3 separate regions of the Homo sapiens genome follow, and regions 1 and 2 are each linked to region 3. Evidence: fine-mapped expression QTL. A gene starts in region 3. Each other region holds a variant in brackets. All regions are shown on one strand. Distances are between the middles of the regions.

The links. PIP is the estimated chance that this variant, and not a neighbour inherited with it, causes the effect. A credible set is the group of variants that fine-mapping cannot tell apart.
Region 1: its variant is the best candidate, but not a certain one, in a credible set for the expression of DCAF7 in cerebellum (GTEx, PIP 0.51).
Region 2: its variant is the best candidate, but not a certain one, in a credible set for the expression of DCAF7 in sigmoid colon (GTEx, PIP 0.59).

Annotation. Positions count from the first base shown.
Region 1 is chr17:63,658,654-63,663,990 of GRCh38, forward strand. The region is part of intron 5 of MAP3K3 (mitogen-activated protein kinase kinase kinase 3); the gene reads left to right. Among named protein-coding and RNA genes, the nearest start is that of LIMD2, 39 kb to the right of the region's middle. The variant T/C (reference allele first, on the strand shown) is at 3,088.
Region 2 is chr17:63,750,676-63,755,675 of GRCh38, forward strand. CCDC47 (coiled-coil domain containing 47) reads right to left here. Exons shown (of 13, transcript NM_020198.3): 9 at 3,758-3,843; 10 at 2,066-2,124; 11 at 1,645-1,754; 12 at 1,265-1,432. Among named protein-coding and RNA genes, the nearest start is that of STRADA, 11 kb to the left of the region's middle. The variant G/A (reference allele first, on the strand shown) is at 2,726.
Region 3 is chr17:63,547,688-63,553,024 of GRCh38, forward strand. DCAF7 (DDB1 and CUL4 associated factor 7) reads left to right here and starts at 2,790. Exons shown (of 7, transcript NM_005828.5): 1 at 2,790-3,128. The coding sequence starts at 2,991. It also overlaps a transcript of KCNH6 not described here. RefSeq lists enhancers at 1,720-2,704, 2,004-2,393, 2,834-2,913 and silencers at 3,064-3,113, 3,134-3,283.

The DNA of each region.
Region 1 (5,337 bases), 110 kb after region 3:
CCAACATGGCAGCATAAGTGTGGGTGTAGTGACTAGGACAAAGTTTAGGTGGAATGCTGCTCATGCTGACCATTTCTTTTCTTTTTTTTTTTTTTTTTGAGACAGAGTTTTGCTCTTGTTGCCCAGGCTGGAATGCAATGGTGTGATCTTAGCTCACTGCAGCCTCCGCCTCCTGGCTTCAAATGATTCTCCTGCTTCAGCCTCTCGAGTAGCTGGGATTATAGGTGCCCGCCACCATGCCTGGCTAATTTTTGTATTTTTTAGTAGAGACAAGGTTTCACCATGTTCGTCAGGCTGGTCTCAAATTCCTGACCTCAGGTGATCCACCCGCCTCGGACTCCCAAAGTGTTGGGATTACAGGCGTGAGCCACTGTGCCCGGCCATTTTTTAATTTTTTTAGTAGAGATGGGGTCTCACTGTGTTGCCCAGGCTGGTCTTGAATTCCTGAGCTCAAATGATCCACCCACTTTAGCCTTGCAAAGTGCTGGGATTACAAGTGTGAGCCACTACACCCAGCCTGTGGTGAACATTTTTCTATGTTGTAATTATAATTTGTAAGGATACATGTTTCTCTTGAGTCGATATACCATAATTTAATTAAATAACCATTTTTGCTACTGTTGGGACACAGAAACTGCTCCTGTTTTTTGCATTTATAAATATTTACATTTAAGAGTAACAATGGTAATGTTTGGTGATGAAATCTTTCCTCCAGAACTTCCTCACCTAGACTTTAGGCTTCTTAATAAATGGAAGAATTATGATCCAAAATTGCTCTGTGCTCAGGAATCCTCACCTCTAGAACAGTGTTCCTCTAACTATATGTGATGAAATATCAGTTTTGTTCTTTTGATTTCAAATCTGTCATGGACTTTTTTTTTTTTTTTTTTTTTTTTGGAGATGGAGTCTCACTCTGTCGCCCAGGCCGGAGTGCAGTGGCGTGATCTCGGCTCACTGCAACCTCCACCTCCCGGGTTCAAGCAATTCTTCTGCCTCAGCCTCCCGAGAAGCTGGGATTACAGGTGCACGACACCACGCCCCGCTAATTTTTGTATTTTTAGTAGAGAAGGGGTTTCACCATGTTGGCCAGACTGGTCTTGAACTCCTGACCTTGTGATCCGCCCGCCTTGGCCTCCCAAAGTACTGGGACAGGCATGAGCCACTGTGCCCGGCCGTACCAGTTCTTTTTTTAAATACAAAAACTGAGAAGTGAAATGGAAAAATAAACTAGAGGTATATAAATTATAAGGCTACAGTTTTCATTAGTAGATTCAATAAACATAAAATCACTCTGCCAAATTGCTCTAAAGTTTTTCAAAGGGCCCTCTCCATTTCTTTACTTACTTGGTGGAAGAGCAGGACGAGCAGTATACCAGTGTGTGGACTGGCACCAGCCCAGATATCATACCTTAAGTACACTGCTCCAGGATACTATATCACCTGGTCTTCATCACCTCCGCTGATACTGTCAGTCACTTTGTTTCTCCACTTTGAATTTCCTGCATTTGTAGCAGTTGCCTCACCGCCTTTTGTTACCACCTATTCCTTTATTTCCCTTTTTTTTTGAGATGGGATCTTACTCTGTCACCCAAGCTGGAGTGCAGTGGCGCAGTGACAGCTCACCACAGCCTCAACCTCCCAGACTCAAGTTATCTTCCTCCCATCTCAGCCTCACAAGTAACTGGGACTACAGGCGTGTGCCCCCATGCTTGGCTTTTCTTTTTTTTTTTTTAATTGTTTGTAGAGACAGGGTCTTGCCATGTTGCCCAAGCTGGTCTCAAACTCCTGGGCTCAAGCAATCCTTCTGTCTCAGCCTCGCAAAGTGCTGGGATTACAGGTTTGAGCCACCATACCTGGCTGTTTCTCTTCTTGTTCCTGTTTTGAATTGTGCTATCTCTTTCTTCTCTTTGGATTCTTCTTCTTCTTCTTCTTCTTCTTTTCTTTTTTTTTTTATTTGAGATGGAGTTTCACTCTTGTTGCCCAGGCTGGAGTGCAGGGGTGTGATCTTGGCTCACCGCAACCTCTGGCTTCCAGGTTCAAGTGATTCTCCTGCCTCAGCCTCCCCAGTAGCTGGGGTTACAGGCATGCACCACCACAACCGCCTAATTTTGTATTTTTTTTTAGTAGAGACGGAGTTTCTCCATGTTGGTCAGGCTGGTCTTGAACTCCCGACCTCAGGTGATCCGCCTGTCTCGGCCTCCCAAAGTGCTGGGATTACAGGCATGAGCCACTGCACCCCGCCTTGGATTCTTCTGATCCCTATATGGCAGCTTCTAATTTTCCTTCTGTCTTCATTCCTCACAAGGTACATAGTCTTACCTCTCCCACCTCACTTTGGCCAAGGCCATGTCTGAGAGGCCTCAATATTATTCTTGAGAACTCCTGAGTTTTGGTAATCACAGAACTATCTCTTTTTTTTTATTTTGAGGCACAGTTTCACTCTGTCACCCAGGTACGATCTCAGCTCATTGCAACCTCCGCCTCCCAGATTCAAGTGATTCTCCTGCCTCAGCCTCCTGAGTAGCTGGGATTACAGGTGCATGCCACCATGCCCGGCTAAGTTTTGTATTTTTGGTAGAGATGGGGTTTCGCACTGTTGGCGAGGCTAGTCTCAAACTCCTGACCTCAAGTGATCCGCACGCCTCAGCTTCTCAAAGTGCTGAGATTACAGGTGTGAGCCACCGGATCTGGCCAGTCTCTTTGTCTGAAAAGCCTCTCTCTAGCCTTGGTCTCTACCATCATTTTAAGATACTTCATTGTCTCCTTCTGTAGTTTTTGCTGTCCTAAGCCTCTGCTTTGGACCACCAACTTTTAGCTTATGCATCTAACTTTTACATTTGTCTTTCAGCTCTTGACCTTCTTAGGACTTTCTAGTCTCAGATCTTCCACTGTCATAAAGTAATATCAAGCTGAACCTTCTTTTGTAACTTGTATTTGTATACGATAAAAACTAAACACCTAGCCACTTTGTTTTGTTACCTCATATTCGCGTTGACAAAAATAAGCTTCTAATCTTCTCACCTAAATATTGTAAGTTAAAAATATCAAGGATAATTTAAAAGGTAATTCTTTTCAGTCCTTGTAAAA[T/C]AGTGGGACAGGTGCAGGAAGATAAAACAAACCTGATTGGGCAGAATAGCTTCTTCTGGCCCCTGTTAAAAATAAACACTGGGCCGGGCGCGGTGGCTCACGCCTGTAATCCCAGCACTTTGGGAGGCCGAGGCAGGCGGATCACAAGGTCAGGAGATGGAGACCATCCTGGCTAACACGTGAAACCCCATCTCTACTAAAAAATACAAAAAATTAGCTGGGCGTGGTGGCAGGTGCCTGTAGTCCCAGCTACTCGGGAGGCTGAGGCAGGAGAATGACATGAACCCAGGAGGCGGAGCTTGCAGTGAGCCAGGATTGCGCCATTGCACTCCAGCCTGAGCCACAGAGCGAGACTCCATCTCATCTCAATAATAATAACATTGGGCTGGGCATGGTGGCTCACACCTGTAATCTCAGCACTTTGGGAGGCTGAGGCAGGCAGATTACTTGAGCCTAGGAGTTTGAGACCAGCCTGAGCAACATGGCGAAACCCTGTCTCTATTGAAAAAAAAAAAAAAAAAACGAAAATTAGCCAGGTGTGGTGCGTGCCTGTGGTCTTAGCTACTTGAGTGGCTGAGGTGGGAGAATCACCTGAGGCCGGGAGGTTGAGGCCGCAGTGAGCCAAGATTGCAACACTGCACTCCAGCCTGGGTGACAGAGTAAGACCCTGTCTCGAATAATAGTAATAATAACAACACCTAGCACATAAAAAGTGTTTTTATCTTTCACTTGATTTTTACAACTCTGAGGGTACCAGGGCAGGCGTCTATTATCTCCAGTCTACATCTGGGGAAACTGAGACTTAGGGTGACTGCTCAGGTGAGGCAGTGTGTAGTGACAGAGCTGGTCTGAAATCCAGATGTTCTGACTTGTAGTCTAGTGCCTGTCAGTCACCATCCAGAAGAGGGAATTTTTTTTTTTTTTTTTTTTTTTTTGGGATGGAGTCTCACTCTGTCACCCAGGTTGGAGTGCAGTGGCGCAATCTCAGCTCACCGCAGCCTCCATCTCCCGGGTTCAAGCGATTCTCCTGCCTCAGCCTCCCTAGTAGCTGGGATTACAGGCGTGCGCCACTACGCCCGGTTAATTTTTGTATTTTTAGTGGAGATGGGGTTGGGCGGGGGGCGGTCCTCACCATGTTGGCCGGGCTGGTCTCGAACTCTTAAACTTCAAATGATCTGACCGCCTTGGCCTCCCAAAGTGCTGGGATTACAGTTGTGAGCCACCACGCCCGGCCCCAGAAGAGGGTTCTTAGAATTATTGTAGTCCTTGGGAAACCTCACCCAGGTGCCTCCACGGTTGGAAATCATTAGAAGCCAAGCAGAAAGTATAATACTGTCCATGAGGAGAACTTGTGAGATGTTGTATCATTCTGTTCCCTGCAGCTTTGAAGACAACTGAGCTAGCAAATGTCCAGAAGACAAAATTTTCAAGGAGTTGGAGTCACTTTCATATATGAACAGTGTAAAAGTTTACAATGCTTGGCCAGGCGTGGTGGCTCATGCCTGTAATCCCAGCACTTTGGGAGGCTGAGGTAGGTGGATCCCTTGAGGTCAGGAATTTGATACCGGCCTGACCAACATGGTGAAACCCTGTCTCTACTGAAAATACAAAATTAGCTGAGCGTGGTGGCGCATGCCCGCAATCCCAGATACTCGGGAGGCTGAGGCAGGAGAATTGCTTGAACCTGGGAGGCGGAGGTTGCAGTGAGCCGAGATTGTGCCATTGCACTCCAGCCTGGGCGATGAGCGAAACTCCGTCTCAAAAAAAAAAAAAAAGTTTAGAACTCTTTAGTTAGGAAAGACAGCCTAAGCATATATAATCAGAGTCTTTAAAGCGTTTAAGAGCATGGATAATGAAGACACGGATTTATTCACCTAATCTCAATTTGGATGAACTCCTTGAATATTGAGCATTATCTTAGAACAAAAAAGAAATAATTTGTATAACAAGTGATAAACCAGCCTGGGTAACATAGCAAGACCCCCATCTCTACAAAAGTTTTAAAATCAGTCGTGGTGGCAAATGCCTGCAATTCCACCTACCTGGGAGGCTGAGGCGGGAGGATCACTTGAGCCAAGGAATTCCAGGCTGCGATGAGCTATGATTGCACCACTGCACTCATTGAGCAAGACCCTGTCTCAAAAACAAAAAAGATGATATATGTGGCATCTATTATTCTGAAATTGTGTAGCTTCAAAGCAGATTTTAAAAAGGGCTTTAGGCCGGGCGCGGTGGCTCACGCCTGTAATC
Region 2 (5,000 bases), 200 kb after region 3:
TCAGGTTCAAGCAATTCTCCTGCCTCAGCCTCCTGAGTAGCTGGGATTACAGGCACGCGCCACCACGCCCAGCTGATTTTTTTGTTTGTTTTTAGTAGAGACGGGGTTTCAGCATGTTGGTCAGGCTGGTCTCGAACTCCTGACCTTGTGATCCTCCCGCCTCAGCCTCCCAAAGTGCTGGGATTACAGGCGTGAGCCACCACGCCCGGCCTGTCCTCTCCCTCTTTTTTTTTTGGCTGCCCAGGCTAGAGTGCAGTGGTGTGATCATAGCTCACTGCAGCCTCAATCTCCCAGGTTCAAGTAATCCTTCCACTTCAGTCTCCCAAGTAGTTGGGACTACAGGTATGCACCACTATGCACAGCTAATTTTTTTTTTTTTTTACTAGTAGAGACAAGGTCTCATGATGTTGCCCAGGCTTGTTTTGAACTCCTGGGCTCAAGCAATCTGCTTGCCTTAGCCTCCCAAAGTGCTGGGATTACAAGCGTGAGCCACTGCACCTGGCCTTTGTTCTCTTTCTTGACCAGCATTTACAAGGTCTAAAATTTAGAGCTGAGTGGCGCACACCTGTAGTCCCAGCTACTTGGGAGGCTGAGGCAGGAGAATGGCTTGAACCCGGGAGGCGGAGACTGCACTGAGCCAATATTGCGCCATTGCACTCCAGCCTGGGTGACAGAGTGAGACTCCATCTCAAAAAAAAAAAAAAAAAAAAAAAAAAAAAAAAAAAAAAATTTAGAGCTGGACTATGGCATCTTATTTCAGAAACACATCAGATCATACCGAGCTTTCAAATATAACATACTATACCCAAAAAGCTTTTGAGTTTGAGATTCTAGTTAGGTAAAAAACAGAAAACAAAAATACAAACAAAAATATTGGAAATCTCTAATTCTATAATCAGATTTTAAATTTTACATAGCAAGTTTATTTAGATAATAGGGCGCATGTGCTGCCTTCTATTAAAATTTCTAACTTCTTTCTACCAAAGTGTTTGGCTCGAAAACTGATAATGGAATTTTCAAAATGAAATTGTGCTGGGGGAACAGGATAATACTGATAATTTTTCACGTTCACAGACTCAGTGTGGCACGGCTTGAACAGGAAGGATTATTTATTCTTCTTTATAGTGTTATCAATTGATACAATGTCCCAAATGTTGAGAAAATGCTAAACTTTTAGCCTACAAAGATTACCTTAACAACCAACAGAACACAAGCAGTCATCCTTACAAATCGTAGTTTTACCCCAGTGATAAGTTTGTCTAACCTCCAGCCTGCGCTGTTTCTCAGGATCTTCCTCATTCATGATTCGCTCCTTCTCTGCTCTTTTTTTCTCCTCCCGCCGAGACTGTGCTGCTTCCTGTCTTTGCACATGTGTCAGTTTCAAGAAGTTCTCTTCTACTCGGGCACGGTTCTTATCTGCTTTTTGTTTGCCCTTCCCCAAGAAACAAAGTATTTCATAAGAAATCCATTTCTAGTCAACAGCAACAAAATCCCGTTTAGCATTCTTTCATAAAACTACTCCCATTTGGCACTTCTAAATCAACTAGCAAAAATTCAGTCACTGAAATCATTGATAGCTGCCCTCCCCCTTGAGAAGAAACAAAAAAAGGTGCCAATTTATATAATACAGGCATTGGGTCTTACTTCTCTGTTGAGTCGGAACTTTTTGGCTTTATCAATAGAATAAATCACCATGTTCATCAGGGGTAGCAGTGCCTCCATATCCTTTGGGTAAGTGTTACCTGAGCCAGGCACTGGAAAACAAAGCCATTTTTCCTACTGAGTTAATGGTAGCATTAATATTTCCAGGTCACCCAACTCTTTTTTTTTTTTAATCTTAAGAGACTCATTTCTCTAAGTTTGTTAGGCAGTTAAAATGCAGCAGAAAATATAAATTAAAATATATAATAGGTAATTTCTTCTTGAAGAAATCTGGAAATCAGTAAGCAAGCACAGGCTTATAGTTTTGACGTAGTTTTAAAGCTATCATTTAGGAGGAAACAATACTCTCCTTAAGGTCATCTCAGAGAAGACTAAGAACCCAGAAAGGACCCAGAATACTTACCATTAAATGTAAACAACAGTGTCCTCTTAGTGTCAGGTAGCTTTAAAGGCTGACCTTCCCTGTCATAAAAGAAAAGGCAATTAAGAAGGAATACAAGAAAGATGTTTTCCATGTACACAAGTCACCCAATACACTTAGATGAACAGATACCTGCACATAATCAGCACAGTATTTGGCTTGGCATACCCAAGTCAAATATAATGAAGGAGCTTTACAGGTCATCTGGTCCACTCGTCTATCTGATGGATGCATTCTCAAGTGATCTTTATCCTATATTTGAACACCTCCAGTGATGTTCCCTCCAGGCAAGGGTATATTCCATCTCACCTGGGGAGCCAGAAATGAGCCTATATTTAAGTATGAGGCCCATATTTTAGATACATTTTTGCTTATTTTGATGCATTTTTATGTTTTATTTCCAACTCCTATTCTATCTTCCTATAACAAGGCATCTTATTATCTTATTTTTGAGTTAGGCTCAGAGTAAATTTAGGGATAATCTACTACAGCATATATAATTTAGTTCTGTCATTGAAGATTCCTTTGTAATCTCTGCCTATATGAATCCTTTGACTATCAATTGCCCTCCATCTCATATTTAAAAGGCATGATGAATGCTACAATGTGAAACACTGTCCTCAGTGCCACTGAGTTGAGCAA[G/A]ACAAGGATGATGCAGCACTATCTAGAGGCATAAGGACCTGAGTAATCTTAGTATACAACTAAAATCCAGATTGGCTTGAATTGTGCTCAACTCCACAGCCTATCAGAGGGTAGTCTTTAACTAAAAATTTAGTCAGAACCAGTTTCAAACCGAGCATAAAGGTAAATAAATATGCTCTCCTGAGACAGGCTGTGAATTCAAAGAACAAATCCAAGTCCTGAATATGTACTCCTGAACAGTATTACTATAAAGCTAGAAACCCTATGGACATTGTGGGCTTCTATGCTAGGAAAGGATACAATCACTTAACTATTCAAAGAGGGAAGCCAGAAAAGGCCATAAATTACAAAACACACAGATTTGTAATCAGACATAAGTCAAACATCACACACAAATTATTATCATAAAAAAAAAGAACCTATGGACTGGGGCATGGTGGCTCACGCTTATAATTCCAGCACTTTGGGAGGCCAAGGCAGGTGGATCACGAGGTCAGGAGTTCGAGACCAGCCTGACCAACATGGTGAAACCCCATCTCTACTAAAAATACAAAAATTAGCCGAGCGTGGTGGTGCACGCCTGTAATCCCAGCTACTCAGGAGGCTGAGACAGGAGAATTGCTTGAACCCGGGAGGCGGAGGTTGCAGTGAACCAAGATTGTGCCACCGCACTCCAGCCTAGGCAACAGAGTGAGACAGCGTCTCAAACAAACAAAAAACAAAACAAAACAAAAAAACCCACTGCATTTTATTAGTACCAGCCATTCTGTAAGATTCCCAACCATCTCACTGAGTCAGTGGCACAAACATGCAGGGACACATACAAACTGGGATAGGGGAGGCTCATTTCTCTCCCATAGGTTTACAATGACCTCTTATGATGCATGCAGTCAAAGCAAAGGAAAATGTGGAGGCCTGTCACCAACTTCCTTCACACATTTGGTAAGGGATATTGCAGAAGCACCTTACAGGTGTTTCAACACAGAAAGCTAGTGAGGAAAATTAATTTCAACAATTTTATCTTATACGTACTCTTGCATAATTTTTGGACCAGAGAACTGGTCTGAAAAATGAACAGATTCAATCTTGTCAGCATAGTGTGTAAGAAAGTGAACCATCTGAAAAAAAGAAAATAATATTTTTTAAAAGCAAGGTTTAATGCATTTCCCTTTTTTTCCTAAAGATATTCACTCTTTGAGATGGTGCAACGGCTCACACCAGTAATCCCCGCACTTTGGGAGGCAGGTGGATTACTTGAGGCAAGGAGTTTGAGAATTTGAGATCAGCCTGGCCAACACAGTGAAACACCGTCTCTACTAAAAATACAAAAAAATTAGCCGGGCATGGTGGCATGTGCCTGTAACCCCAGCTATCCAAGAGGCTGAGGCACGAGAAGCGTTTGAACCCGGGAGGTGGAGGTTGCCGTGAGCAGAGACCACGCCACTGTACTCCGGTCTGGGCGACAGAGCAACACTCTGTCTCAAAAAAAAGAAAAAAAAAAAAAAAGAAATTCACCTTTCAATCCTTACTTTTATACAATGTCCTTCATTAAGACCAAAGCGTGTTCATTGCTTTTTATTTATTTTTTGTGACAAGGTGTTGCTCTCTTACCCAGGCTAGAGTGCAGTGGCACAATCATAGCTTACCATAGCCTTAATCTCCTGGGCTCAAGTGATCTTCCTGCCTCAGCCTCCTGAGTAGCTGGGACTAAAGGAACACACAACCACACCTGGCTAATTTTTTTATTGTAGAGACAGGGTCTCACTATGTTGCCCAGGCTAGTCCTGAATCCCTGGACTCAAGTGATTCTCCTGCCTCCGCCACCCAAAGTGTTGAGATTACAAGTGTGAACCACAGCGCGCGGACAAGGCTAAAGCTTTTTAAAAATTAAATTTCAATAAGATAGGGAATCTCTTTAGAATTAAAGTAGTACTCCAGGCTGGGTGCAGTGGCTCATGCCTGTAATCCAAGCGCTTTGGGAGGCCAAGGTGGGTGGATCACTTGAGGCCAGGAATTCCAGACCAGCCTGGCCAACACAGCGAAACCCCATCTCTACTAAGAAAAAAAAAAAAAAAAAAAAAGTAGTACTCCTTTTTAGTCATACCAATGATTAAGATTCTTTTCGAGCAGCTAAAAATATTTCTCAAAATAATGGTCGAAACAAGAATGAAAGCATAAAGATAACACCTAAAATAATTTCAGGGGATCCTTTATAAACATGTCACCTTGAACTTACATTTATAACCATCTCTGAGTTATCCTGTATTCTTATGAT
Region 3 (5,337 bases):
GCCTGTAATCCCAACACTTTGGGAGGCTGAGGCTGGAAGATTGCTTGAGCCAGGAATTCAAGACCAGCCTGGGCAGCATAGCTCAACCTGGTCTCTACAAAACAATTTTTTTTTAATTAGCCAAGCATTGTGATGCGCACCTGTAGTCCCAGGTACTACAGGGCTTGCTGGGAGGCTTGGGTGGGAGAGTCACTTGAACCTAAGAGGTCAAGACTGCAGTAAGCCATGTTCATGCAACTGTACTCCAGCCCGGGTAACAGAGCAAGACTCGGTCTCTTAAAAAAAAAAAAAAAAGTGGCTGGGCGCAGTGGCTCACACCTGTAATCCCAGCACTTTGGGAGGCTGAGGTGGGCAGATCACGAGGTCAGGAGATCAAGACCATCCTGGCTAACAGGGTGAAACCCCATCTCTACTAAAAATACAAAAAAAATAGCCAGGCGTGGTGGCAGGTGCCTGTAGTCCCAGCTACTCGGGAGGCTGAGGCAGGAGAATGGCGTGAACCCAGGAGGTGGAGCTTGTAGTGAGCCAAGATCGTGCCACTGCACTCCAGCGTGGGCAACAGAGCAAGACTCCGTTTCAAAAAAAAAGTAGGTCGGTCATGGGGTGGCTCATGCCTATAATCCCAGCATTTTGGGAGGCTGAGGTGGGAGGACCAGTTGAACCCAGCCTGGGCAACATAGCAAGATCTTGTCTCTACAAAAAATAAAGGAGGCAGGAGGATTGCTTGAGCCCGGGAGGTCAAGGCTGCAATAAGCACTGTTTGCCCCACTGCACCACCACCTGGATAACAGAGCAAGACCCTGCCTCAAAACGAATGTGTATAAATTAATTGACATTTTAAAATTAATTTTTGTAACCTTAATAAGGCTTTAAGGGTTACATCTATTAGTAGTACAGTTGTTCAAAACAACATAAATATATATTCAATTTTCTAATAAAAACTAAAATTTTATTGGAAATATACGTCATAAAAGAGAAAATTTCCTCCCCCCGTTAGTTCCTATATCTGTGGATAAATATCATTATTTTTTATTAGAATAAGACAAGGTACCGCGAATTTTGTACGTCTTTTTCTTTCCTTTTTAAATTTGTTTTTAAACTTTCCTCCTTACAGGGGATTTCCTTTAGCTGGGCATGGTGGCGGGCGCCTGTAATCCCAGCTACTCAGGAGGCTGAAGCAAGAGAATCACTTGAACCCTAAAGGCAGAGGTTGCAGTGAGCCGAGATAGTGCCACTGCACTACAGCCCGGGCGACAGAGTGAGACTCCATCTCAAAAATAAAATAAAATTAAAAAAAAAAGAGGATTTCTTGGCCAGATGCGGTGGCTCACGCCTGTAATCCCAACACTTTGGGAGGCCGAGGCTGGAAGATCATTTGAGGTCAGGAGTTCGACACCAGAATGGCCAACATGGTGAAACCCCATCTCTACTAAAAATACAAAAATTAGCTGGCTGTGGTGGTGCACCCCTGTAATCTCAGCTACTCGGGAGGCTGAAGCAGGAGAATCACTTGAACCTGGGAGGTGGAAAAATCATTTATCATTAAAAATTATATTTAGTGCCCAGAATGGTGGCTCAAGCCTGTAATCCCAGTACTTTAGGATGCTGATGTGGGAGGATCGCTTGAGCCCAGGAGTTCGAGATCAGCCTGGGCAACATGGAGAGATCTCATCTCTACAAATAATAATTTAAAAATAGCTAGGTGTGGTGGCAAATGTCTGTGGTTCCAGCTACTCCAGAGGCTAAAGTGGGGGAATCGTTTGAACCTAGGCAGTCCAGGCTACAGTGAGCCCTTATCACACCAGTGCACTCCAGCCTGGGTGACAGGGCAAGACCCTGTCTTTAAAAAAAAAAAAAAAAAGTATTTAATGTTATCATCCAACAATTCAATACAAACCTCCTTCAATTTTGATGAAAGCTGAGAATTGGAAATAATTTATATAAAGGTGTCATTTGGTCTCTGGCCCTTCCCCTTTTCCAACTCACAGGCACAGATACCTTTGGGGCTGGATTAGCATTTGCGTTGGGATCCACGGCGGGAAGGGTACAGGATGGGAACTGACAAAAACAGAGCCAAGCTGGTCGGGTCGGTGCCTACCCCAGAATTCGGGGACATTTCTAGATCCTGCAGGAAAGCGCGGGAGGGCCTGACTCAAGCTGGCCTGGCCCTGAGCGCATCTGCGCGCCCGAAGCCTGTCCCTGAGGCACGGAGAGAGCAGCTTTCGGGTTAAAAGGGCCCTGGGAAGAGATGGGGCGGGAAGGTGGTACCCGTTGGGCGCAGGCCAGGCTGCCAGGCCGCAGGGCTCTGTCCCGCGAAAGTCAGTAGGTCTTCCACTAAGGCAGAATTGTACTTTTACTCGACAGCGTGGAGAGGCCGCTCAGAACAGCAGCAGCGGAGGGGAAGTCAGCGCAGGTCACAGACGGTTTCACTCTCAGAGACTTGGCCTAGAACTTGGAGGCCCGCTGCTACAGCACGCTCGCCTCCAGGCCACCCACGCCCCCACCACCCGCACTGAGCCGTTATCTGCCTGACTGACATCTTGGCCAACCAATGACCTTTGGGGCTGCCAAAGCGCCTGCCTCCGAGAGTTGGGCGGGGCGAGTAGTTGCAATGACAAACATTTAACCCAATAGCGAGGAGATTTCAGACGCTACGGCCGCAATAACCAATGACAAGAAAGAATCCTTTCGAAAGGACGTGTCAGGCAACCAACGGCCGGTGCCGCTGCGGGGGTCCGGCGGCTTCCGTTCCGAGAGGGCGGGGCGGCGTCCCAAAACGGAAGGTGGTTGTCGTCCGTTCCCAAGCTGGTTTGAAACTAGGGGTCGGGCTCGGCCGTCGTCGTTGTTTGTCGCCGCATCCCCGCTTCCGGGTTAGGCCGTTCCTGCCCGCCCCCTCCTCTCCTCCCTTCGGACCCATAGATCTCAGGCTCGGCTCCCCGCCCGCCGCAGCCCACTGTTGACCCGGCCCGTACTGCGGCCCCGTGGCCACCATGTCCCTGCACGGCAAACGGAAGGAGATCTACAAGTATGAAGCGCCCTGGACAGTCTACGCGATGAACTGGAGTGTGCGGCCCGATAAGCGCTTTCGCTTGGCGCTGGGCAGCTTCGTGGAGGAGTACAACAACAAGGTGGGCCGGGCAGGGGCTCGGAACCCAGCTGGCGGGGAGCGGGCCCCGGGAGCGCCCTTTCCGGGCCGGAGCCCAGGCCTCAGAACCCTCTTGCGGACTCGCCCTAGGGCCACGGAGCGGTTCCTCTGTCTGGCCCTGTGCTGAAGGTTTCGTACTCGTTGTCTGTCTCCTTTAATCCAGGCAGCATTCTTGTGTAGTCGGCAGTGTAGTGGGGAAACTGAGGCACGGTTTTGTGACTTGCCTGGGTCAGGCAGCTATTTCGGGGTGGAAACAGGTCTTAAAACCGGGTTTACGCCCCAAAGATACTCCATTTATTCATCCCGTGCTCTCCACTCCTGCCGCATTGCTTTCGTTGGTGGGCGGGGAAGGGAAGAGAGAGTGATAGCTGTGAAGGAAAATGCAGGCGCTTCTATTGGTGGTCGTGCACTCCTGGCCACACTAGATTTCTATTAAGACGATCTATTGTACAAGCTTCCCCGCCCCCTACTCCCACCCCCCCCGGGTACTCATGGATCCTAGCCCTTCTGCCAGAATTACTGTTGCTCTTGCTTCCTGATATCCATTCTCTCTAAAGCAATCTCTTTGGAAATCTTGGCCTGTGGCATGATCCCGCCGTTGTTTCCTGAACACAGAAGGATGACAGGGCCTTATCTCTTGGCTTGTTTCGTGCTAGTACAGTTGTGTGACCTTTAGTAGTAAGTCTTGCTGGACATACATCAATTTGAGAATCCTTTATAGAAGCACGGTGTAGTAGGGGAGCTTTTAAACTGGCATTGCAACAAACTCATTTTTGAAAGTTGAATAAGTCAGTTGGAAGAATTTTCTTTCTTCCTTTTACTCAAAGTTGTGAATGATAGCGATCAGAGCAACTGAAAGCTGTGGCTAGTGATATTTAAAGCCACTACTCCTGCTTTATGCCATGAACATCAGATTTAAGAAGAGTAAAACTGGCCGGGCGCGGTGGCTCACGCCTGTAATCCCAGGACTTTGGGAGGCCGAGGCGGGCGGATTACCTGAGCTCAGGAGTTCGCGACCAGCCTGGGTAACACGGTGAAACCCCGTCTCTACTAAAATACAAAAAAAAAAAAAAAAAAAAAAAAAAAAAAAAAAAAAAAAGCCGGGCGTAGCTTAGTGCGCCTGTAGTCCCAGCTACTCGGAAGTCTGAGGCTGGAGAATTGCTTGAACCTGGGAGGCGGAGGTTGCAGTGAGCCGAGATGGCGCCACTGCACTCCAGCCTGGGCGACAGAGTGAGACTCTGTCTCAGAAAAAAAAAGAAGAATAAAACTGTTCAGTGACAAGGCTGATGCAGGGGGGAAGAAACCAGGTGGTCCTGTCTGGTTATTGACTAGCTGTGAGATGTTGCACAGGCCTGTTTTATTATCTGTGACCCACAGTTTGTACGGAAGGGGTTCTGGTTTACATGTGAGGGTCTTGTAAAAAAGAAATTTGAACATTTCACAGTTTGTTTACAGTTTTTCAGGAGCACATTTGTTTCTCTAGAGTAGGTCCTCTTTGGAGTCCACTTTGAGAAGCTGATGAAAGCTATGGATTCTCATTGTCCAGACATTACACATACATGAACAATTTACAAACAAATCCAAGGAATATGCACTGATCTTTAAGTCCACCCATTGCCCGGGCGAGATAGAGCTTTCTTTCCTCTGTTGCTTCTTTCTTCCTTATGGCCCATAGTGGACAGCAGAACTGGAAATGGGATTCACGATTCTGATGTGGACACCGTGTTAATAAAATTAAGACCACTAGAACTATTGTTTAAAGATACACGTGGAAAATAAAAAAGTATGTCTTTCAAAGGGCTTAAGTCTTTTTACACAAATTAATGTTTTTTCTTGTAAGTTTTTCCAGGGTCGTTGGGTAAGCAATAGTTACTCCTATTCCTCAGAGAGGAGAAACTGAGCCACAGTTAGGCTGCTTGGTAGGATCAGTGGAGTAGTCAAACTGCTGTTGCAGGAACTCTACCCCAGTTTGTCCTTTCATTTAGCAACTATCTGGAGCTTCCTCTTTGTGACAGGCACACAGGTAGCATGGCTTAGCAGTGAAATGCAAACTAATAACCCCACTATCAACAGCATTAGCAGTTAACTATATCTTAACTCACATGATGTAGGCAATGCGCTGTCTTAAAATCATTTTTGTGCCTCCACCTATCAGTAGATCAGGGTTCTTAAATTCTGTGTGCCATGGTCAT